Homo sapiens: one gene and its partners. The protein of the gene in region 3 interacts with the protein of the main gene of each other region in a pairwise test. Each region holds a gene or a part of one and is shown on either strand. Other genes may lie near its edges. The genes, in order: CRX, CRYBA1, RHOXF2, CAMK2A, KRTAP15-1, MSX2 and SUMO1.

Region 1 (2,444 bases), on a different chromosome or scaffold from region 3:
ATAACTGTACGTGTGCATGTTTGTATTAGATGGGTGGATGAATATGTGTATGATGTATGTATGATCATATCGATGGGTAAATGCAGGCATGATGTATGTGCGTATGGTGTATGCATGTATAATTGTACGTGTGCATGTTTGCATTAGACGGATGGGATGAATGCACATGGGTATGATGTATGCATGTGTTCATGCACACATGCAGGTATGATTGGATGGATAGATGGATGGATGGGTGAATAGACGCCCCACAGCTGGATGCAAAGTAGACAGATGTGAACCCAGCACCTCTCACCAATAAGTGTCCTCATCCCCGGGCACCCTGCGGCTCTCCTGGGCCTCTTCCCCACTTACCCACCCCCATCTCCGCTCTTATCCCCCAGGTTTGGTTCAAGAACCGGAGGGCTAAATGCAGGCAGCAGCGACAGCAGCAGAAACAGCAGCAGCAGCCCCCAGGGGGCCAGGCCAAGGCCCGGCCTGCCAAGAGGAAGGCGGGCACGTCCCCAAGACCCTCCACAGATGTGTGTCCAGACCCTCTGGGCATCTCAGATTCCTACAGTCCCCCTCTGCCCGGCCCCTCAGGCTCCCCAACCACGGCAGTGGCCACTGTGTCCATCTGGAGCCCAGCCTCAGAGTCCCCTTTGCCTGAGGCGCAGCGGGCTGGGCTGGTGGCCTCAGGGCCGTCTCTGACCTCCGCCCCCTATGCCATGACCTACGCCCCGGCCTCCGCTTTCTGCTCTTCCCCCTCCGCCTATGGGTCTCCGAGCTCCTATTTCAGCGGCCTAGACCCCTACCTTTCTCCCATGGTGCCCCAGCTAGGGGGCCCGGCTCTTAGCCCCCTCTCTGGCCCCTCCGTGGGACCTTCCCTGGCCCAGTCCCCCACCTCCCTATCAGGCCAGAGCTATGGCGCCTACAGCCCCGTGGATAGCTTGGAATTCAAGGACCCCACGGGCACCTGGAAATTCACCTACAATCCCATGGACCCTCTGGACTACAAGGATCAGAGTGCCTGGAAGTTTCAGATCTTGTAGAGGACGCAGTCTCCATCTCTCTCCATCGGGCCTCGGGACCCTTTCTCTTCTGAATCTGCTTCCCTGCAGTTTAGATCCCGGGATGGCATTCCTGAGAAAGCAACCCGAACCAGCTGTCCTTCTGACAGCTCGGTGTTCAGCTTACAGAGACCACCCCTTTCCTCCACAGGGAGAGGCTCCTCCCTCTCCTGGGACAGCTCACAGGTCCTAGTGATTCTCTCAACCCTAACACCGTCTGGCACGATTGTGACCGCTGAAGTACACCACGAGCTCCAGGCTTCAGAAAGTGGTGCTGAGAACTTGCTCCAAGAAGAAGTCAAACCAAACTTGCAGTTGATTTGGGGTCATGTTTAGGTCAGAATCACCGTGCCCTTGAACAAGCAGGTAGGGGGGCTTGATAACTTAACTTTCCACGTGGACAGAATTTTTTTTTTTGTTTTGTTTTTGTTTTGCAGACACAGTCTAGCTCTGTCGCCCAGGCTGGAGTGCAGTGGCACGATCTCAGCTCACTGCAAGCTCTACCTCCCGGGTTCACGCCATTCTCCTGCCTCAGCCTCCCGAGTAGCTGGGACTACAGATGCCCACCACCAGGCCCGGCTAATTTTTTTTGTATTTTTAGTAGAGACGGGGTTTCACCGTGTTAGCCAGGATGGTCTCGATCTCCTGACCTCGTGATCCGCCCGCCTCGGCCTCCCAAAGTGCTAGGATTACAGGCGTGAGCCACCGCGCCCGGCCCTTTTTTTTTTTTTTTTTTTTAATTGAGACGGAGTCTCACTCTTTTGCTTAGGCTGGAGTGCAGTGGTGTGATCTCAGCTCACTGACTGCAACCTCCACCTCCCGGGTTGAAGCGTTGCTCCTGCCTCAATCTCCCAATTAGCTGGGATTACAGGTGTGCTCCATCATGCCCGGCTAATTTTTCTATTATTAGTAGAGACAGGGTTTTACCATGTTGGCCAGGCTGGTCTGGAACCCCTGACCTCAAGTGATCCGCCTGCCTCGGCCTCCCAAAGTGCTGGGATTACAGGCATGAGCCATTGTGCCTGGCCCTACACGTGGACACTTCTTTAGCATATGGTTAGGGACCTTTCTAGAAATTCCAAAGACAGACTTTAAGAAGCCCCGTCGGGAAACCTTAGGCCAATGATGTGGTTACATTAAAAATAAATTATCTGGGAATTTCACAGACTTCACAAATGTCAGGCTTACATGGTAGGTTTAGGGGACCGTTTGAGAGACAAAGATCTACATTCATATATGTAGCTATACATATATGTACTTTTTCTTCTTAGTTTCTTTTTAAAGACATTTTATCACTCATTCGCTCATTAGCACATTGGGAATGTGTGTATTTGGTAGGGAAATGAAAGGCACCTTGCCTGTTCCATCTCTACTCCTTTTTTCTTTTGTTTTAGG
Region 2 (4,291 bases), on a different chromosome or scaffold from region 3:
CAGTGAGGCAAGATCGCACCACTGCACTCCAGCCTAAGCAACAGAGCGACACTCTGTCTCAAAAAGAAAAAAAAAATTGGTTTTGAAGGTGTGGGTGGCAGGAATTCTCGCCCCTGGCCTGGGTGAGCTAGAGGGGAGAAGCAAGGACATCTAGGTCCCTATCACCGCTTGCCTAGACAACTTCACAGGAAGGCCCCCGGGAATCTGAGATGGAGCAGGTGAACCCTTTACATCTAGATGGTGAGTCCAAAGGAGGTATTCAGAAGGTTGCCTTCTTCCCCTTCCTACTGCTGCCCAACGATGACCCGCAGGCTGAAAGAGCCCTTTCCTCCTGGAACTGATGTGGGACCTGGCCTGTTTGGGAGCAGAATGGTGAAAGGAATTAACATGGAAGACAAAGGGACAGGCAGCCAAGATCATTTGAGGAGGAAAAATTGCTTCATTTCTAGGCTCCTTCCCCTTTTGAAACAGATAAGTTACATCCATTATATGCTCAGTGTTTATATTCAGAACTGCAGTTCTAGCCAGGGGGGTCTCTTTCCTCTCCTGGAATTTTTTGGGCCATTTATGCATTACTCCTGAGGGAGGGCCAGTGCAGGGCAGTGACTTTGGTGTTGGTTAGAACTGGATTCGAGTCTTGGCTCTGCCATTATAAATACTGTGACCTTAGGCAAGTCACCTGATTGTTCTCTTAGTTTCTTAATCTGGAAAATGGAGGTGAAAATAGCACTGTTGTGGTGGCTGTGAAAAAGTATTTCTTTCTTTTGTTGTGGAAAAGTATTTAATTCAAACTTTTTAAGTAAAGCATTTAGCACATGTCTAATATATAGGAATTATTCAATAAATGGTTTAATTCTTTTTTAAAAAACCCAAAAGTTATAGCTCCAAAATTTTTAAAGAAAATTGCAAAATTAAAAGGAATATTTAATAAAATAGCTACAGAGAGACACATGTCTGCTAGTCAACTATAATTGAAGTCAACCCTTACATAGTTATATATAAATACAGCATAATAAAGATTCCCAAGAATACAATGAACCATTTTTTCTCATATTGAGTTCAGAATTACAATAATTCTTTCACATTTTTAAACAACAAGAAATGCACATCTGTATGGAAGTGAGGTGCATTTTGATGTGTTTGATATGACATGGGGTCTCCCAGGGTCTTAAGGTCTTAGGAAGATCCCAAGGTGGTGTGAGGAACCTGGAGAAGGACAAGAGACAAGTACTCATGGCAGAGACTTCTGTCCTCACCCCCTAGCTGCTCTGAGAGATTAAGAAAGCCAAGGCCTGCAGCAGCCAGCCATGCCCACAACAGAGGGGCCTCTCTGGATTTCTGTATCCCTGGTTTAAACAAAGGCCCCAGCAAGCTGAGCCACCAAAGCTCTGGGGATCATGAGGAACAAAGGCAGAGGGAGAGCAGAGTGCTGACAGGGCCAGAGGCCAGAGGCCGCAGGGCTATAAAGAGGAGGGCCACAGAGCAAGTGGTACCAGATGGAGACCCAGGCTGAGCAGCAGGAGCTGGGTGAGTAAGGCCCTCAGGGTGCCCTTGCCCTTCCTCTCCTTGCCCTGCAGAGACATGCCCAGGAGAGGGCCCAGTTCTCCTGCCTAGTGTGTAGAGCCTTCTAGGGTGGCTGGAGAAGAGTGGGGAACTCTGGCGGAAGACAGCCTTCTCTTGTCACCCCAAGAGGAGTCACTTATATAGCAATAACCACTGCCCTAGCAACTAAGGCTGGGGGATGGGCATGGGCCCCCAAGAAACGAGCAGGGAGAAGGTATGGGAGCAGGACCTGGGAAATGTTGCTTATTCAGAGATTCAGAATGGAAAAATATATTACAGAGTTGACATGCATCATTCCTGGGCCCAATACCAGCCAGGAGGAGGGCCATGAATATCTGTCCTAAGAAACCTAATACACACCTGCCTGTCTTCCTTCTTCCCTTCCTCCCCCACTTTTCCTTCCTCTTTCTTGCTCTGTCCTTCCTTTTTTAAAACTCGTCCTACCATCTTCACTGTCTACCTAACCTCTTTGAGCCTCAGTATCCTCATCTGTAAAATGGGGATAATGATAATTCTTAATTCATAGTCTGTATGTGAAGATTAAATGCATGAATGCATGTAAAGCATTTAAAACAGGGCCGGACATGTAGATAGCCATTTTTGAGTGTAAGTATTATAACTCTTTTCTTCTTCACTTTCCTTCAATAAGTCTTTTTCAATGTCCCCCTGATCCCTCATCTCCACATGTGCTCAGCACGATGCTATACCAATCCCCTAGAAGACCGAGGCCTTGCCATTGAGGTGCTCACCAGGACATCCAACCAGAACACAGATTGGTACTGTGATGAGTGCTATAAATCAAGAAAGCAAGCAAGTGGCTGTGGGCTGGAGAAGGCAGGAAAGCCTCTGAGAAGGCAAGGTCAAGGCTGGGTAGGATCTAGGAGATAGAAAAGCAGAAAGGAATGGCCAGGCGCCGTGGCTCATGCCTGTAATCGCAGCACTTTGGGAGGCCAAGGCGGGCAGATCACCTGAGGTCGGGAGTTCAAGACCAGCCTGACCAACAGGGAGAAACCCCGTCTCTACTAAAAATACAAAATTAGCCGGGCGTGGTGGCACATGCCTGTAATCCCAGCTACTAGGGAGGCTGAGACAGGAGAATCGCTTGAACCTGGGAGGCGGAGGTTGCGGTGAGCCGAGATTGCGCCATTGCACTCCAGCCTGGGCAACAAGAGTGAAACTCTATCTCAAAAAAAAAAAAAGAAAAAGAAAAGCAGAAAGAGGCCAGATAAGGATGAGACCGTGAAGGGTTACGAGGGAGTCTGGGGCTTGGGATCCTGGCATGGCTGGCTGTTTGGCCAGTCACATGAGGGGTCTGGCCTAGGTGGTTGCCAAAGAGTTTATATTGCAGACAGAGGTAATGCTGTCACCTGAAAGCAAGTGAGAGGACAGGGTCTCAGTGCTTTACCTGCATTATTGTTTCTGATCCTTGTTTTTTTTCTTTTTTTTTTTTTTGAGATGGAGTCTCACTCTGTTGCCCAAGCTGGAGTGCAGTGGCACGATCTCAGCTCACTGCAACCTCTGCCTCCCGGGTTCAAGCGATTCTCCTGCCTCAGCCTCCCGAGTAGCTGGGACTACAGGCGTGTGCCATCATACCCGGCTAATTTTTGTATTTTTAGTAGAGACGGGGTTTCACCACGTTGGCCAGGCTGGTCTCAAACTCCCGACCTCAGGTGATCCGCCCGCTTTGGCCTCCCAAAGTGCTGGGATTACAGGCGTGAACCACCGTGCCCGGCCTATTATTTCTGATCCTTACAATAACTGCATGTCGAAGCTTTACCAATGGAAAAACTGAGGCTCAGGCTGGGCGCGGTGGATCACTTGAGGTCAGGAGTTTGGGACCAGCCTGGCCAACATGGTGAAACCCCCATCTCTACTAAAAATACAAAAACTAGCTGGACATAGTGGTGCATGCCTGTAGTCCCAGCTACATGGGAGGCTGAGGCGGAAGGATCACTTGAGCCCAGGAGGCAGAGGTTGCAGTGAAGTGAGATTGTGCCACTGCACTCCAGCCTGGATGACAGAGAAAGACCCTGTCTCAAAATAGCAACAACAACAACAACAAACCCCGAGGCACAGCTAGTGAGCAGCAGAGCCAGAATTTCAACCAAAGTCTGTCTTGCAGACTTCAAGTCTCCTTTACCTTTCAAGGCATTCCCTCACCTCCCCCTCCTCCCAAGAGGCCACATCATTCGTGTGTGCTCTGTCTTCCAGAAACCCTTCCAACCACCAAGATGGCTCAGACCAACCCTACGCCGGGGTCCCTGGGGCCATGGAAGGTAAGCCCACCCCCATCACATCCAACAGGGCAGGGGTGACATGCTGCACAGAGCAGGCCCCAGGCCTGTGCTCGTCCATAAGGCAGTGACTGACCAGAAAAACCCCAGTTTGTAGGGGAAAGGTCCACACAAGCTCCAGTGCTGTCGAAGGAAGGATCTCTCAGGATGTCCCACTGGACAAAGGAAGGATGACTGTGGATGCCATTGATGGGTGGGAGATGATACCTAGTTTCCTAACTCCTCTCTCCTCCCCACTAAAGTCATCTTAAAATACAGCAGCCCAGCAACAGTTATGTCCATGGAGAAAATGAGGGCCCATAAAGATATTTACTACTAGATCCCAAATAAATTACAGGACTCAGCCTCCCATCCTGAGGTTGGCTTTAACCATTGGCCGAAGTGGCTGATCCTCAGGCCTCTCACTGGCCTCTCTCCAACACTCCCCACTCTCC
Region 3 (2,259 bases):
ATCGGGATGACCTTAATAGCTTTTCTGCAGAGCTCATGTGTGTGAGTGCAGTGAGGGAACTATGCTGCGGTTCTGTCAATGGTGGCATGCAGAAAAGCTGCCTGACAAAACGGGGCACTGAGTGTTGGCATCCTGTTGCCCTCCATTTTCTCAGGCAGGCAATGCCAATTTGGGGGAGATGAAATATTGACGTTTTGGTGAATTGCCTTTCCCCTCCCTGGGTTTACATAGCATTCACTCAATGCAGTTCTGAAGGCAAAAGGACCACTCTCACTCAGCAAATAAGGAAAAAGGCATGATGTTCTCATCTATTGCCAAACATTTCAGCATGAATATCTCCAAAAATTTTTAATAGATGTTTCCCCCCTCTGTTTTGTAAAGATAGTAAGGGCTGGTTTATGAAACCGATACGGAGACTAGGGACCTAATGTTGTCCCATAGCACATTTGGCCCACTTTTGGCATTGCTTATGTTTATGAACCTTTGACCACAGGTACATTGGAATTGTCTCTAAACAAGCACTATTACGGTAGGCTTAAAATTTAGACTATGTATTCATGAGGGAGAAGGACTCCAAATAGTAAGATGGGAGAAGGAAATGGGGCATCAAACAGGGAGAAGAGTCCCTTTGTCCCATAAAATTTGCAGTTTGGGAACTTCCAGAAGGATCAAAATACAATGGAAATGTCATTAACTAGAAGCTTGGGGGATAGTGTTGTTTAATTGACAGGTTTTATTTTTTGGTCTTTTAACAATTGGCAGGTGTTTGGGGAGTAGTGTTTTTTGATACCTCCTCCACATTACTACTGAACGTGTTCAGAGTTGCCTATTTGGACACTCCCGCTTTGGGAATGCTGATGAGATTGGGATCTTCTGCTCGAGTAGTGAGGCTAGATGGCTGAAGGCGTCCCATGGAACTGGGCAACCAAGTCTCTGTCCCATATCCCAGGACTATAGGGAGAACAAAGTGAGCTGACCTTGTCCTTAGCCCAGGAAGATTTGGAGGGAGGGATGAGTTGGAGCGTGCAGAATTAGCAATGCTTCCTTTCTCTCAAACTCTCAACTGGGCAAAGCTTTTTGAGAATTTTTGTGAATTTGGACAACATTTGTGTCCTCCTTCCACAAAGCTTCAAGCTGAAGTGTGAAGAGTGTCCAGGGCTTCAGATACCCTCATTTCCCAGCAAGACAATCCACAAACTCCCTGGGCCCCCTATAACGAGACTTGCCTTGCAATATACCATCTTTTTAATTCTCAAGGAGTTTCAGAAGATGAATGACCCCTTAGAATTTCTTGAAGGAAAGAAAACTTGTTTTAAAATACAATGTACTCTTACCGATTTTTTACTTTACACTGAAGATGGGCTTTTCAAAACGGGGGCCTCATCTTCTTGGTATGACTTTAAAAGGCACCCCCGCCTTTTTTTCCAAGCTCAGCTTCCCCCACGACCAGGGTGACAGTGGCCTAGTAAGTAGGAGTTGGTGGGCAGCTGGGTAGCTGATGGTCAAGTATCTGCAAGCAGACATGCCACACATAGCAATACCAGCAGGGATCGAGTCCCACTCATCAGCTACACCTGCACCCAAGAGTGGAAAAAGTAATATTACAGATAAAAGGAGAGAGACAAAGAAATAAGCCAAGCCAGAGCGTACGTAGCACATACTTGGAGCTCACTAGGGGAAAGGTGTGGTGGTCACCTTTCTAAGATATTTTAGTAGTAAGGAAGTAGCTTGTCTTGATACACCCGAAAAGGTTAAGGACATAGAGAGTTGCTTGTTGTGTTTTTTTCCATGATGAAATTAAATGCTCAGTATACTAAACCTGTTTCTTTTTTCCTCTGATTGAAGATTTGGTTTGAGAATAGAAGAGCCAAATGGAGGAGACATCAGAGGGCATTAATGGCAAGAAACATGCTGCCCTTCATGGCAGTGGGCCAGCCTGTCATGGTAACCGCAGCTGAGGCCATAACGGCACCCTTGTTCATCAGCGGGATGAGAGATGATTACTTCTGGGACCACAGCCATTCCAGCAGCCTGTGTTTCCCCATGCCACCCTTTCCTCCTCCGTCCTTGCCCCTTCCACTCATGCTTCTTCCACCTATGCCACCCGCTGGCCAGGCTGAATTTGGCCCATTCCCTTTTGTTATCGTGCCTTCTTTCACATTCCCCAATGTCTAAGGGATAGCCTCTGTGCCACTTTTTGCCAGAGTGTCTTTGAGCCAGATTCATATTTTGCATAGCACCCCATCAAAAGTAGTTCAT
Region 4 (3,500 bases), on a different chromosome or scaffold from region 3:
GAGCCCAGGGGCCATGGAGGGATGAGCTAGTCCTGGAGCAAGATGCTCTCAGCACGGGGCAGAGGGCTAAGAGGTGGAGGGGTTGGGGGACACGAGGTCTGCTGTTGTTGCCCAAGCAAGAAAAGTCCATCATCTTCAGGAGCCTCTGCTGGTAGGTGTCCCTCAAGCTCTTCAGCTTGGGCGGGCCAAGGGGCCCATTAATATCTGCCCCTAGGACGGCCTTGTCCCAGGAGCTGTACTGGCTAAAGCCTAGCTCACCCCGACTTCTCCAGGGGGCGAGGGATGGGCTCTGGGCTGGGGTTGGGGTTGGGACAAATGGAGGGGCAGGGCAGAGGCTTTGGCTTCTTCTCTGAATGCAGCACCTGCCTCTCCTTCCCCGTGGCCCTCCCGTCTCTCTGTCCCTCCTGGGTCCCTTCACTCCGGCCTCCTCTCCCACTGCCCTCTTCTTATGTCTTGCAGGGAGCCATTCTCACCACGATGCTGGCCACCAGGAACTTCTCCGGTAGGTGGCAGGACCTCAGGGTCCCCAGTAAGCCCTGCACCAGTTCGTTGGGGGCACCGTCCTGTCAGATATTGGAGTGCCCCCAGGCCACTGGGCCTGGGGAGAGGGAGTTGTAGAGGACTCTGTGACTAAGGGCTTAGCTCACCTGCCACGGCCTGTACCCAGAAGTGAAGAGAGGTCAAAAGTCAGCAAGCCCAGGGCCCACCAGGACTGGTTACAGATTTAGTCTGGCTGCCCACTCCTACAGCAGTGCTGGGGTTCTCAGGCTGGGCCGCCTAGAGGGGAAGGCTTCTGATTGCAGGGGATTGAGTTCTAGATGGGGTGGAGCCAGGTCCAGGGAGTAACAATATTGCCCACCATGATTGGAGCCCTGTGCTAAGCAGTCCCGTGCTTCCACTCAGGTGGCCTACATGACAAGGCAGCAGAGGGGATGATGGGGGTGCTGCCATCCCTATTTCTGGGATGAGGAAGCAGAAGCTCAGGAAGGTGAGCTCTGACTTGTCCCAGGTCACATGGCTAGAGAGGCAGAGCCTGCATTCAGCACAGGTTTGACCAAACCCAGGGCAAGTGCCTTTAACTGGATTGGGTCACCAGTGAGTCCAGGGCAGGAGCGTCCCAGGCCCTTGGCCAAACTGGGCTGGTTAAGGCAGGGAGTGCCCAATCACCTGAGGCATGTGGCTTTGCAGAGAGAAGGGGAAGGGATTATTGTCAGGGTTTAGCAAGAAGCTCCTCTTGGCACATCAGAGAGGGCTGGGGCCAGTGCCCTCCAGAGGCTTCCTTCTGGGGAGCGCAGGCCGCTGGCAGGCAGTAGAGGAGATATAGATAGCAGATAGAGCAAAGCTCACCCGAGGGGCCCTCTGACTGGGGCTGGGGCCAGCCGAGAAAGCTGCTGCAGATTTGTGGCCAGCACCACAGCAAGAGGGCAGCTCTGAGAAGGGGGCAGCTGGCTGCATTGAGTGGGTCCACCTGCCCATGTAACCAGTTGGGAGGAGTGAGACCCAGAGGTGGGCAGATACTAGAACTTCTGACTGGGCTTTTCCTACCTCGTTAAACTGCCTTCCCACCCTCTCCCTGGACAAGGATCCTGCCATTCCGTAAACTGAAAGATGAGCTACCCAGATAGTCAGAGTCTTTTTTTAACAACTGAAGCACCCTAAAGAACTCTAGTCCTGAGCTCACAAAATGGCGGCCTGTGAGCTGGATTGAATCTCTTGATATGCTTTGTGGAGGTAGGGGTGTTTTAAAAATTTTTTTGAATGAGTTTCTAACACTTAAAAATTAGGAAATTTCATAGAAAACCCCAGATTGCTGTCGTCTCTTGAAAATTAGACGCTGTGGCCTCACTGGACCCACGATCCTGTGACAGTAGGCTGGAGCTGAGAGGGGCGTCTACCTTGAGGCTCGAGGAGAAAGCACTCCCCCTGCCCCACTGCACATCCTAGTCCAACCCTCCAAAGCCTGTGGTGAATGGACAGCCATTCCTGTCAGCTTCGGGATCCAGAGGTGGCCCCTGCCTTGGTTTGCAAGTAGGGAACTTGGAATGAGAGCCTCGAAGGGGTCATAGGTGGAAATGTGGGGGTGACTGGGAAGGTGACCTGCCATGAGCCCCATGCCTCAGAGCCCCTGGGGCATCAGTGGCTCATATGACCCTCCTCCCAACTCCCCCTCTCAAGGCCACCAGGAGAAGTCTTATCATGGCTACCATTTCCTGAGCATGTGCGGCTTATGGGTCAGGTGCTTTGCTAAGTACTTCACAGATACCTTGTTTCATTTAAGGTATTTGCTTAAGTCTGAAGCAGCCGGATGCCTGTGGGCAGGGCTGGACATTCAGGCCATTTCCTGGCTGATGCCCACTTCCAGGGCTCTGGCCAGGAGGTGAGGAGGGAGGTAAGGGGAAATGACAGCAGGGGAAGCCCCCAAAGAGCTGTTGCTCTGGTTGTCCCTGCCACCCGGGCCATAGCCAGTGCCAATATGGGGCTCTGGAGTCTGAGGTTGGGGAGGCCTATATGGCCTGAGGAGAGAGGCAGGGGATGGGTGCTCTGGCAGGGTGGGCCCCAGTGGGGGCATCTGCTTCTTGTCACTGGCAAGACGCAGCCTGCAGCTGTCCGGAGTGAGTAGGCAGGGCTGACACATGACCTCCGCAGCAGCATGGGGCTAAAATTAGAGAGGGCCAGGGTGGGGAGGGCGTGTCCAGCCTGGGGCCAGGCAGCCAGACCTCGGGTTGGCCACCGCCAGCACGGTGGTGACAGGGATTCAGAGGGAATCCCCGGGCTGAAACAGCAGCCCACAGTCCTGGGACATGTTGGACACCTCCCTCAACCCATGAAGCCAGAGGGTTACGCTTGAGATTGCTGAGAAGGCGGGGAACCCAGGCAGTCCCTGGGCCTCCAAGGAGGGAGGAGGAGGAGGAGGAGGAGGAGGAGGAGGAGGAGGCCTCCCCCAGGATCGCTGGGCCAGCTCTGCTCCCTGCAGTCTGCCCTCCGGCTGCGTGTGGATGCTGCTCGTCCTCGCCCTGTGGGCCCTGGTGCCCTGCCTGGCGTTGTTAACCCTCTACTTTTTCTCCTCCACAGGAGGGAAGAGTGGGGGAAACAAGAAGAGCGATGGTGTGAAGGTAAGCCCCTCCAGGAGCCTGGCAGGGCTTGGCTCTGGCAGCGTTTCTGCCAACAGAGACCGGCTTTCAGGCCTGGAGCAAGACCCGGGCCTTGCTGATGGTGTCCTGGGCAGACGTGGGCCACATTTGTGGCCAGGCTGTCTCCAGACCCACGACCTAGGCTTTGGTGCCCACCGTTGCGCCGTGACTGTTGGGGGGCAGATGGGAGAGGGGGGACTGGAGGAGGGTGGAAGTGACAGGTGTGCTGGGGTGGGGGCAGGCGCAAGGAAAGGGGCAGGTCAGAAGGAGATTTCTGTGGTTCTCCGAGGCTGGAGAGCTGGTGTGCAAGAGAGGGTGCAAGGAGAGGACAGAAATGGTCATGAGGGGTGACCTCCGTCCTGCCTATGT
Region 5 (2,379 bases), on a different chromosome or scaffold from region 3:
CTCTCAGATTCAAGTGATTCGCCTGCCTCAGCCTCCTGAGTAGCTGGGATTATAGGTGCACACCAGGCCTTGCTAATTTTTGTATTTTTAGTAGAAATGGGTTTTCACTGTGTTGGCCAGGATGGCCTCAAACTCTTGACCTAAAGTGATCCGCCAGCCTCAGTCTCCCAAAGTGCTGGGATTACAGGTGTGAGCCATCATGCCCAGCCTAAGTGTATTGTATTAACAAAATAAAATGGAATGCCAGAATTCATGCCAAAGAAATAAGCTTATTTAAAATATTGTAACTATTTGAAATATATTTGAGTGGAAGAGTTCTGGGAAAATAATGAGAGAAGGATTTTAGAAAGATGATAACAGAAATGATCCTGAGCATTGGCACAAAAATTGAAATTCAAGATATATCTCCTGTCAGATTTAGGAAGGGTCCTAGGTCAAGATTAATTTGTCCGTGTTCAATCATATACTTCCAAGAGGGCTAGGATGCTGAGTCCTACTGATGTAGATGGTCAACAATCACAGATATTGGACAGGCTGAGTGTTGCAGTTCCATAGAGTACAGAAATAATCATGAGAGAATGGAGAATATTCAGTAAGATGATCCAAAAAGGCGAGACCCAAAGGCTGGTTAGTAACAAGTTGCCTGGAAATTCCTGGATGAAAAGGTAGTTGGGTGGTAGAAGCTGGACCCACAGTCCAGAGATTGGAAGCCAGTGCTTCCACAACCAAGAGATCCAAGGCCAGTGTTTCCACATCCAAGGGATCTTATGTAGTTAGTCTGGCGGGGACTGCAGAAGATGGAATTCTTTGGGCAGTAACAGGATGTCTGATAGGATCTGGCCAAAGTGCAGGATGTCTGGCAGCTGGTGGGCTCACAGTAGGTCTCCTGACAGCCATTGTAGAGAGAGGAGCCCAGTTGGCAGGTATTTGGAGAATAGATGGCATTGCTGGGGTAGAACAAATTATAAGTGGAAACTGGATACCTCAGGTAACTTCCAAAACAGCAGGAGGAGAAGTTTCCAGAGCTGCAGTTGTAAGACATGTTAACAGGAGTTCTGAGCTCAGGTGATTTGCAGTGAGGAGCGTGTGTGTGTGAATGTTACCTTCTATACTGGACACTGACATACTCTAGCAATAGGTGTAGTCACAAGTGCCCATTCTAATGAGAACACTTAATTAGGCTGCAGTCAAAATGAAATATATTAACACTCAAAGAATTTTATTTATGAACGTAGACTTCTACATGAAAGAATTTCATTAGTTTTTCAAAGCAATTGTTCATGAAACAAAAATGCCATTTCTCATTCATCTTGCTTAGGTAGAATGAAAACCACCATAATTGTACCTATAAGACTGATGCTTCAAAGGGTCGGGCGCGGAGGCTCACACTTGTAATTCCAGCACTTTGGGAGGCTGAGGCAGGCATATCACGAGGTCAGGAGTTCCAGACCAGCCTGACCAACATGGTGAAACTCCGTCTCTACTAAAAATACAAAAATTAGCCGGGCATGGTGGTGGGCGGCTGTAATCCCAGCTACTCAGGAGGCTGAGGCAGGAGAATTGCTTGAACCCGGGAGGCGGAGTTTGCAGTGAGCCGAGATCGTACCACTGCACTCCAGCCTGGGAGACAGAGCAAGATTCCATCTCCAAAACAAACAAACAAACAAAGAAACAAAAAAACAAAGAAAAAAACTTGATGCTTCATTCATCCTGTCCTTCTAGAAATTGGATCAAACGGCTAAGACACTGAGAGTTCTGGTATTTGTAAAGATCTGAAAAATACCTTGTAATCTGGAAGGGACTTTGATCTTGCTCCAATTTTATAAATTCAATTGAGAACAGAAAAAAAATTTCAATATCTATTCCTTCTTTCAATTCTTTGAACCATTAGAAGAAATAACCCAATAACAATCCTTATTTGGTAGACATGCTAAATGAGTGCCTAACATATTTAAGTTTAGATTTCTTATAACACAAGTAGCTAAGTCACTCTTGTGCACATGAAGAGTTAAGAATGAAGGGTGAAATTTTTGAACAAGTGCTTTGAAGTTTACATTGTAAAACTACTAAAGAAATCCCTTACTCAAAGGTTGATTTGCTTCTTCATAGAAGTCATCAATAAGTTTGATTATAAAAAACCGTTTATCCCCATAAGGTATAAGTAATTTTTGGTCATGTTGATGTTACTGAGAGGAAAATAATAAGCACTATAAGTAAAATGTAAATCGTTAATCTTTTCCTTTCTTTTCTCTCAGAGGGTGACATTTTTACCAGAGAGGGAAAAGAAAAGCAAGAAATGAGGGAAATGTCTATCCCATGTAGTATTCACAGAAAGATAAAATATGTAAAGAATTCATAGTAACAAATGACTTTATAAAT
Region 6 (3,966 bases), on a different chromosome or scaffold from region 3:
AGCGGAGAGATCCGAGGCCTCTAATCCTCGAAGCTCGCTCTCCCCTTCCCCAGGCTGAGACAGTCATCACTGAGGCTTTGGAAAGGAATTACCGAGGGTATAATTTGGGGTGGGGTGGAGACATCTATGTTTTTATAAAAAACCAGGTGCCATGAATAAAAATGTGCTTCCCAAAATGATATGTAGGCCTGGGGTGTGCAAACTTGGAAGCCGGTATTTCTGAGACTTGCAAACGAGAGGGAGGCACTAGATATTGGCGACTTTTCCTCCTCCCCCCCACCCCCATTACCCTCCGAGGCAAACACTGGCATTCAAACACGCACGACAAACACAGGCTCAAACAAACTCATGAATGCACACTTGCACTGTCTTGAGAAAAAGGTCGGATCCGGATCGCGCTCAGAAAGGAGGTTCAGGAGACAAGTACAGAGATTTCAACTTTCTAAAAGTGCGCTGGATTTGCTTTCTAGTGAGAGAGATGGGGACAACTGATTTAAATTCTTCACTCCGAACCATTTGGGAGAGAGGCACTCCTGACCACTTCTCGGGCTCCTTCCGGCCCCTCTTTTCCAGGGGAAAGAGTTGTAATAATAACAGTGGGCGCTTTTGAGCGCTGGCTAGTGGCGAGTTACTCTTCTAAGTGCATACATTTCTTTCACAGGGATACTGGCCTGTGAGTTTCAGCACCGACTTTCTGGAACTGTAAAGTAAGCCAATTTTGACGCATAGTAGGGGCTTCGTAAATGTTTCTGCAATGCTGTTTGCGAATCTTGAACTTATTCTGGCGGTAGAGGGAGAGTGGGATGGGCGCAGGGTCCCTTTTAAAGAAGGGTCAAAAGAGAGAAGAAATGGGACTCGGCGAACTTCCGCTTTAAATAATCGCTCTTAATTAGGTCTCGGGCTTTTCAGTTTCGGCGTGATTATAACCCTTCAGGGATCGCCTAATAACAACTCTGCTGACTGCTCCTGTAATTAACTCCTAATTTATTTCAAACAGGAAAAAAAAAAAAAAAAAAAAAAAGGAGGGGGGGCAGCCCCTTCGGGAAGAGCCAATCAGGGGCGAGCGTCTCTGGCGTCAGCGCCAGGCCCGGCGCGGATTGGCGGCGCGCGTCTCCCACTTCCCCTCGGAGGAAAGGCTCAGCTCCCAGCGCGCCCCTCCCGTCTCCGCAGCAAAAAAGTTTGAGTCGCCGCTGCCGGGTTGCCAGCGGAGTCGCGCGTCGGGAGCTACGTAGGGCAGAGAAGTCATGGCTTCTCCGTCCAAAGGCAATGACTTGTTTTCGCCCGACGAGGAGGGCCCAGCAGTGGTGGCCGGACCAGGCCCGGGGCCTGGGGGCGCCGAGGGGGCCGCGGAGGAGCGCCGCGTCAAGGTCTCCAGCCTGCCCTTCAGCGTGGAGGCGCTCATGTCCGACAAGAAGCCGCCCAAGGAGGCGTCCCCGCTGCCGGCCGAAAGCGCCTCGGCCGGGGCCACCCTGCGGCCACTGCTGCTGTCGGGGCACGGCGCTCGGGAAGCGCACAGCCCCGGGCCGCTGGTGAAGCCCTTCGAGACCGCCTCGGTCAAGTCGGAAAATTCAGAAGATGGAGCGGCGTGGATGCAGGAACCCGGCCGATATTCGCCGCCGCCAAGTGAGTGCGCGCCGGGGCAGGAGTAGGAGGTAGCGCGGGGTACTGGAGGGAGCGGGGGGCGGGTGTTCCAGGGCTGAGGGTACCGAGACCCTTCTGCGTGCGCTACACTCCCGGGAAAGCAAGCCCAGGGCCTCTGGACTCCTGGGTGCCCGGGGCGTTCGGCGCGCCCAGTGCGCCGTCCGCATCCAAGACACCCTCTGGGTAATAACCGCGCTGTGTGTGTCTGAGACTCCCTCGACATACAGATTGTTTTTTCAAGAGCGAACCCCAGCTGGGTTTACGGGGTCGCTCGGTGGTCCGTTTCTACAGCCCTCGGCCCTGCGCTCTGGCCACTTGGCTTGTTTTTGTTTCACTGTTCCCCGGAGTCTCTGCCTGGGGAGTGAAGGAGTTGGATCCATGTTCAGTGAGCACTTGGATGTACCAGGAACGAGACAGGTTCAAAACTCAACCCTGAGAGTTGTGCCCCCATTTTAAAGATGAGCTAACTGGGCTTAGCCAGACATTGAGGAGAAACCATTTTCTTTCGTGAGTCCCGCGGGTGTCGAAGCCGGATCCCACGAAGGGATGGTGGCACCAGGGATGGTGGCATCAGAGTCTGGTGCGGGGAGGAAATGTCTCTCTGTGGTCTCCGCAGCCAGCACCTCCCCGGCAAGGTTCTGAGCTTCGCCGGGAGCGGGCTGGGGCCAGAAGCGCACGGGCTCTTCTTGGCTCACAGTAATAATTAACCGCATTCCAGCAGGGCTTGAGAGTTTGCAGAGTGATGTTCACTAGCTCACCAGATCGAGATCCTCACTAGAACCCCCAAGTGTAGACACTGGACTTGTGACTACCCTATTTTTCAGACGTGGACGCTGAGGCTTTTAAAGAAGACGGCCTTTGCTTGTCCCAGGTTACCAACAACCACTGATTGGCCAGGGGCACCTGTTGCCCACGCCCTGCTCCTCTGTTTGATATGCCCTGACCACTTTTGCGTCCTCTCCCCAGAGAGACTAGGTAGAGATCCGCACCTGCACCCCACTTGAGAATTGAGGCTGCAGAGAATTCTCCGCTTCAGCATCCATTTTTGGTCCCTGAGTCCTTTTACAATTTGGAGACGTCATCCTTTACAGCCTCTTTTACTTTTATCTCTTGGCTTTTATGGTTTCTCTACCCCCTAATTTCCCACCACGCCATCCCCTACCTGTAGGAAAGGTGAGGGTGGGGGCTGTGGAGGGACTTTCTCCAAAGCTGAGAGAGATCCTTTCACTATTTACATCATTCAGCCCTCAAGACTAGACGCACTGTATTTTGTTAACAAAACAAGGCCATATACCCAGGCGTCAGTGGCTGTCCCCTCTGGCAGTCTCTCTCCACCCTGTTAGAAACTCTGAAAGATTCAAAGGGCGAGGAGATTAAGGGACTCAAAGAATTTAAACTCAAGTTTGGATAGTGCTTTATAGCACTTTTCACCGTATTATCTTATCTCCTCTGTAGGGCAGCAGCCGGCCTCTTAACAGATGAGGACATTTCAGCAAAGTTCAGAGAGGAATCGGCAGTTTGGGCCTGACCAAAAAAAAAAAAAAAAAAAAGCTGGGGACCATTTAATGATCACCTACCAGGTGGCAGACAGACAGGGCTCTGGGTACTCTTAAAATTTTAGTACTGTGGACCACATTGAGGGATTAGTGTTACTTACCCACTTTATCGACAGTGAGGTAGAGGCTCAGAAAATTAAAAGACTTAATTTGTTTAACAAATATTGAGTACATAGCCTACGCCTATGCCCAGCCAATGATACAGGCCTTAAATGGAGTAGTGTCCAGAGGTTAGGAATCCTGCCATCCTTTAGGCCTGTGGGTCTGGAAAGGCAATGACTACTACCCCTCTAAACATCTCTGCCCTGTGCTCAAGCTTCCCTGCTCTGGGTAAGGCAACCTCGGGCCCAGGCTGTGACCTTCCCATGAAAAGAACCAGAAATTCTGAGAACCGAGTTTATAACCTGCACATTCTGCACATGTATCCCGGAACTTAAAGTAAAAAAAAACAAAAAAACAAAAAAAAAACACCATGAAGAATTGTTGGTGCTTTGGGCCTGGAGGTGGCAGCGGGAACCCTGTGGTCAGAGTAGTGGGTCCTGAGAATGCCAGGCGACGGAGCCTGGGGCGAGAGGGAGCTACCCGCCCGGGCCTGATTTTGTTATTTGGAGGAAGTAGGATAAACGCTGTTTTGCCTTATATAATCGCATCCTTCCTCTGGCTGGTTTAAAATTAGGTGGGGGTGGAGGGATGGGGAGTGTTGCATTGGGAGGAAGCCTCATAGCTTCATGGTTTTGATACACATGTGCGATCCCGGTCACCTGGATTT
Region 7 (3,500 bases), on a different chromosome or scaffold from region 3:
TTGAATCATTTACTTCTTCCAGGACACTGGGATTGTTAAGGATGATTTTTTTTTTAAAAAATGAAAGGTCTCACATATTTATTACTGAACCTAGCCAACCAACACGTTCATAACAGATTCAGAGAAAAAAATATATTCCCAATAAAACATGTCCAACTCTCTAGATAGTGGTGACATTTTCAGCTCGATATGGTAACATGATTGTGACCTTCAGACAGCATAAGTATGTTGTATCATGCAATGCCTTATAGACCCAGCTTGGTTCTTCTCCAATGGCTCCTTTTGGAGTTTTACCTGATTTTATTACCAGTTTTCATCCGAATCCACTGGGGAATGGGTCAATTTTGCTTTTGTTTCTTGGCCAGGAATCACTTAACCCTGAAAGTCTTGTGAGAAGACATGGCGAGAAGTGGAGTCAAGCACACACCATGATGGCAGATAAAGGAAGAGAGGCCGATAATCTTTTTTTTTTGAGACGGAGTCTCGCTCTGTCACCCAGTCTGGAGTGCAGTGGTGCCATCTCGACTCGCTGCAACCTCCGCCTCCCAGGTTCAAGTGAGTCTCCCTCCTCAGCCTCCCAAGTAGCTGGGATTACAGGCACCTGCAATCATGCTCAACTAATTTTTGATCTTTGTAGAGATGGGATTTCACCATGTTGGCTAGGCTGGTCCTGAACTCTTGACCTCAGGTGATCCGCCTGCCTTGGCCTTGCAAAATGCAGGGATTACAGGCATGAGCCACGGTGCCTGGCCCAGTTAATTTTTTATTAAGACATCTTTAGCATTCCATTTTGGAATTCCCTGAAGTTGTGATTTAAAAAAGTATATATATATAATGCTGATATTCTACTTAATTAATTTAATTAATTAATTTTTTTTGAGACAGTTTCGCTCTTGTTGCCTAGGTTGGAATGCGATGGCGCCATCTTGGCTCACCACAACCTCTGCCGCCTGGGTTCAAGCGATTCTCCTGCCACAGCCTCCCGAGTAGCTGGGATTACAGGCATGTGCCACCATGCCCAGCTAATTTTTTTTTTTTTTTTGAGACAGAGTCCTAGCTGGAGCGCAATGGCGTGATCTCTGCTCACTGCAACCTCTGCCTCCTGGGTTCAAGCATTTCTCCTGCCTCAGCCTCCTGAGTAGCTGGGATTACAGGCACGCACCACCACGCCTGGCTAAGTTTTTTTATTTTTAGTAGAGACGGGGTTTCACTGCGTTAGCCAGGATGGTCTTGATCTCCTGACTTAGTGATCCGCCTGCCTCGGCCTCCCAAAGTGCTGGGATTACAGGCGTGAGCCACTGCGCCCGGCTAATTTCATTTTTTTTTTTTTTTTTTTTTTTAAGTAAAGATGGGGCTTCTCCATGTTGGTCAGGCCGGTCTCGAACTCCCGACCTCAGGTGATCTGACTGCCTTGGCCTCCCAAAGTGCTGGGATTACAGGCATGAGCCACTGCGCCATCCCGGCTGATATTCTGTTTCTTTTTAAAAGAGTCATGGGGAAAAGTTCACACAGATACTGTTATTGAGCACCTTAGTTTTACAGTTTAAAATCTGGATAATTCCTGCAACGTGACTATGTTTACTTAAAGATACGTTGTATCGGTTATATTTTTTGGCTATTTTTGCATTCAGTTGCCTTTTCTGAGCTAATGAGGATCTGAAGGAAAAGACCTGAAGGAAGGAAGGAAGGGTGGAGTTTTGTTTGCTGGGCTGGTTGTTCTCAATATCTAGGGCCAGTTATTTTTAAAGGTTTTACCAAAGAGTAATATACATACAAAAAAGTGCACAAGAGTGTTTGGTTTGCCGAACTTTCACAAACTGAACACATCCATGCAACCAGCACTCAGATGAAGAACTGCTGTATTGACTTAACAAGTAGAATAGTTTTGTCTGTTTTTATACAGCATAACATTTTATAAGTGAAATCATACAGTATGTATCTCTGTGTGTTGGTTCTTTTGCCCGGCACTGTTTAGAGGTTTGTTCATTATTATTGTATATAGTTGTATGTTATTACATCTCATTGCTGTGTGGCTTTCCATTGTGTGGAATGCAGTACACTCAATTTACTTATTCATTCTGCTTTTGATGCCCATTGAGGAATTTTCTAGCACCTGTTTTTAATATGAGCCAAACTTATACCTTTTATAGCACCTTCTATTTCAGGATTACTTTTGGGCTGAATAACAGAAAGTTTGATTTATTGTAGGTTAAACAATTTTTTTTTTCTCATAAAACAAGAAATGTAGACAAAAGTAGCTCAAGGCTGATGTGGTAGCTCCACAGTTCCTTCATATTATTTTCTTCTCCATCCTTAACAGCAGTCTTTCACTCTGGTGCTTGTCTACTTGTGGGCACAAAAAAGCTACTTTGTGTTCCAGACAGGAGAAAAGGGAAAAAGTATGTTCACTTTATATCTCTTTGGCCAAAATGGGTATAAAAGAAGCTGGGAAATACGTTTTTTATCTGGGTAAATTTAGGTTTCCCTTTGTAAGGAAGAAAGGGAAAATAGATACCAGATAGGTAATTAACAATGTCTGTCATACTTCCAAGTCTGTTTGCTAGTACTTTTGGATGCAATCAAACTGGTTTGTTCTAGGCTTAGCATAGGTCTAGACTCAAAGGGTAAGGTTTACACAACCAGTAAAATTTTTAGTTATAGTTTTGAGTTCCTGAGAAGCTATCTGTGCATGACTAGTGTTTAACTACCATTCAGGGTTGAATGTAAATATTCAGAGGCCCATTGTGTTGACAGCTTTGACCTAAACCTTGAAGTTATACAGTTAAATCTGGTCAGTTCTGTTCTAAATCTCTAGTACCGTCTTACTAAGTTTGAACATATGCATCATGAAGATGAAAATATACATATATTTTTGTGTTTTTAGAATCGTGGGCCCAGTGCAGTGGCTTACTCCTGTAATCCCAGCACTTGGGAGGCCGAGGCAGGCGGATTGCCTGAGCACCAGAGTTCGAGACCAGCCTGGGCAACATGGTGAAACCCTGTCTCTATGAAAAAATACAAAATTTAGCTGGGTGTGGTGGTGTGCGCCTGTAGTCCCAGCCACTGAGGAGGCGGAGTTTGCAGTGAGCCGAGATCGTGCCACTGCACTCCAGCCTGGGTGACACAGCGAGACTCAAAATAAATAAATAAATAAAATGGAATTGTGGTAAATTATTTAAGTATAAGGGAAGTGACTTCACTGTAATTCTCGGTTTTTCCCTTTTAATGGTGCATTAGAATTATCCTGTTTAACCCTTTTTGAGCTTTCTTCATTAGGAAATAAAATAAATTGATATATATAGAATTTGAAGCTTGGAGTGACTTTTTTTTTTTTTTTCCGAGACAGTCTTGCTCTGTTGCCCAGGCTGGAATGCATTGGCGTGATCTCGGCTCACTGCAAGCTCCACCTCCTGGGTTCACGCCATTCTCCTGCCTTAGCCTCCCAAGTAGCTGGGACTACAGGCGCCCACCACCACGCCCAGCTAATTTTTTGTATTTTT

Evidence for each region.
Region 1: the proteins of RHOXF2 (region 3) and CRX interact in binary tests that used the Homo sapiens proteins (3 or more experiments, as listed by UniProt).
Region 2: the proteins of RHOXF2 (region 3) and CRYBA1 interact in binary tests that used the Homo sapiens proteins (3 or more experiments, as listed by UniProt).
Region 4: the proteins of RHOXF2 (region 3) and CAMK2A interact in binary tests that used the Homo sapiens proteins (3 or more experiments, as listed by UniProt).
Region 5: the proteins of RHOXF2 (region 3) and KRTAP15-1 interact in binary tests that used the Homo sapiens proteins (3 or more experiments, as listed by UniProt).
Region 6: the proteins of RHOXF2 (region 3) and MSX2 interact in binary tests that used the Homo sapiens proteins (3 or more experiments, as listed by UniProt).
Region 7: the proteins of RHOXF2 (region 3) and SUMO1 interact in binary tests that used the Homo sapiens proteins (3 or more experiments, as listed by UniProt).

What each region holds. Positions count from the first base shown.
Region 1 is NC_000019.10:47,838,937-47,841,380, forward strand, and holds part of CRX (cone-rod homeobox protein), read left to right. Parts: intron 1-383; coding exon 384-1,031; 3' UTR 1,032-2,444. UniProt on the Homo sapiens protein: Transcription factor that binds and transactivates the sequence 5'-TAATC[CA]-3' which is found upstream of several photoreceptor-specific genes, including the opsin genes.
Region 2 is NC_000017.11:29,245,368-29,249,658, forward strand, and holds the start of CRYBA1 (beta-crystallin A3), read left to right. Parts: upstream 1-1,491; 5' UTR 1,492-1,496; coding exon 1,497-1,527; intron 1,528-3,774; coding exon 3,775-3,839; intron 3,840-4,291. UniProt on the Homo sapiens protein: Crystallins are the dominant structural components of the vertebrate eye lens.
Region 3 is NC_000023.11:120,161,613-120,163,871, forward strand, and holds part of RHOXF2 (rhox homeobox family member 2), read left to right. Parts: intron 1-1,845; coding exon 1,846-2,175; 3' UTR 2,176-2,259. UniProt on the Homo sapiens protein: Transcription factor maybe involved in reproductive processes. Modulates expression of target genes encoding proteins involved in processes relevant to spermatogenesis.
Region 4 is NC_000005.10:150,244,774-150,248,273, reverse strand, and holds part of CAMK2A (calcium/calmodulin-dependent protein kinase type II subunit alpha), read left to right. Parts: intron 1-459; coding exon 460-502; intron 503-3,072; coding exon 3,073-3,113; intron 3,114-3,500. UniProt on the Homo sapiens protein: Calcium/calmodulin-dependent protein kinase that functions autonomously after Ca(2+)/calmodulin-binding and autophosphorylation, and is involved in various processes, such as synaptic plasticity, neurotransmitter release and long-term potentiation.
Region 5 is NC_000021.9:30,438,991-30,441,369, reverse strand, and holds KRTAP15-1 (keratin-associated protein 15-1), read right to left. Parts: upstream 1,096-2,379; 5' UTR 1,043-1,095; coding exon 629-1,042; 3' UTR 501-628; downstream 1-500. UniProt on the Homo sapiens protein: In the hair cortex, hair keratin intermediate filaments are embedded in an interfilamentous matrix, consisting of hair keratin-associated proteins (KRTAP), which are essential for the formation of a rigid and resistant hair shaft through their extensive disulfide bond cross-linking with abundant cysteine residues of hair keratins.
Region 6 is NC_000005.10:174,723,416-174,727,381, forward strand, and holds the start of MSX2 (homeobox protein MSX-2), read left to right. Parts: upstream 1-1,166; 5' UTR 1,167-1,244; coding exon 1,245-1,623; coding exon of another isoform or gene 1,624-1,649; exon of another isoform or gene 1,650-1,652; intron 1,653-3,966. UniProt on the Homo sapiens protein: Acts as a transcriptional regulator in bone development. Represses the ALPL promoter activity and antagonizes the stimulatory effect of DLX5 on ALPL expression during osteoblast differentiation. Probable morphogenetic role.
Region 7 is NC_000002.12:202,228,598-202,232,097, reverse strand, and holds part of SUMO1 (small ubiquitin-related modifier 1 isoform a precursor), read left to right. Parts: intron 1-53; exon of another isoform or gene 54-450; intron 451-3,500. UniProt on the Homo sapiens protein: Ubiquitin-like protein that can be covalently attached to proteins as a monomer or a lysine-linked polymer.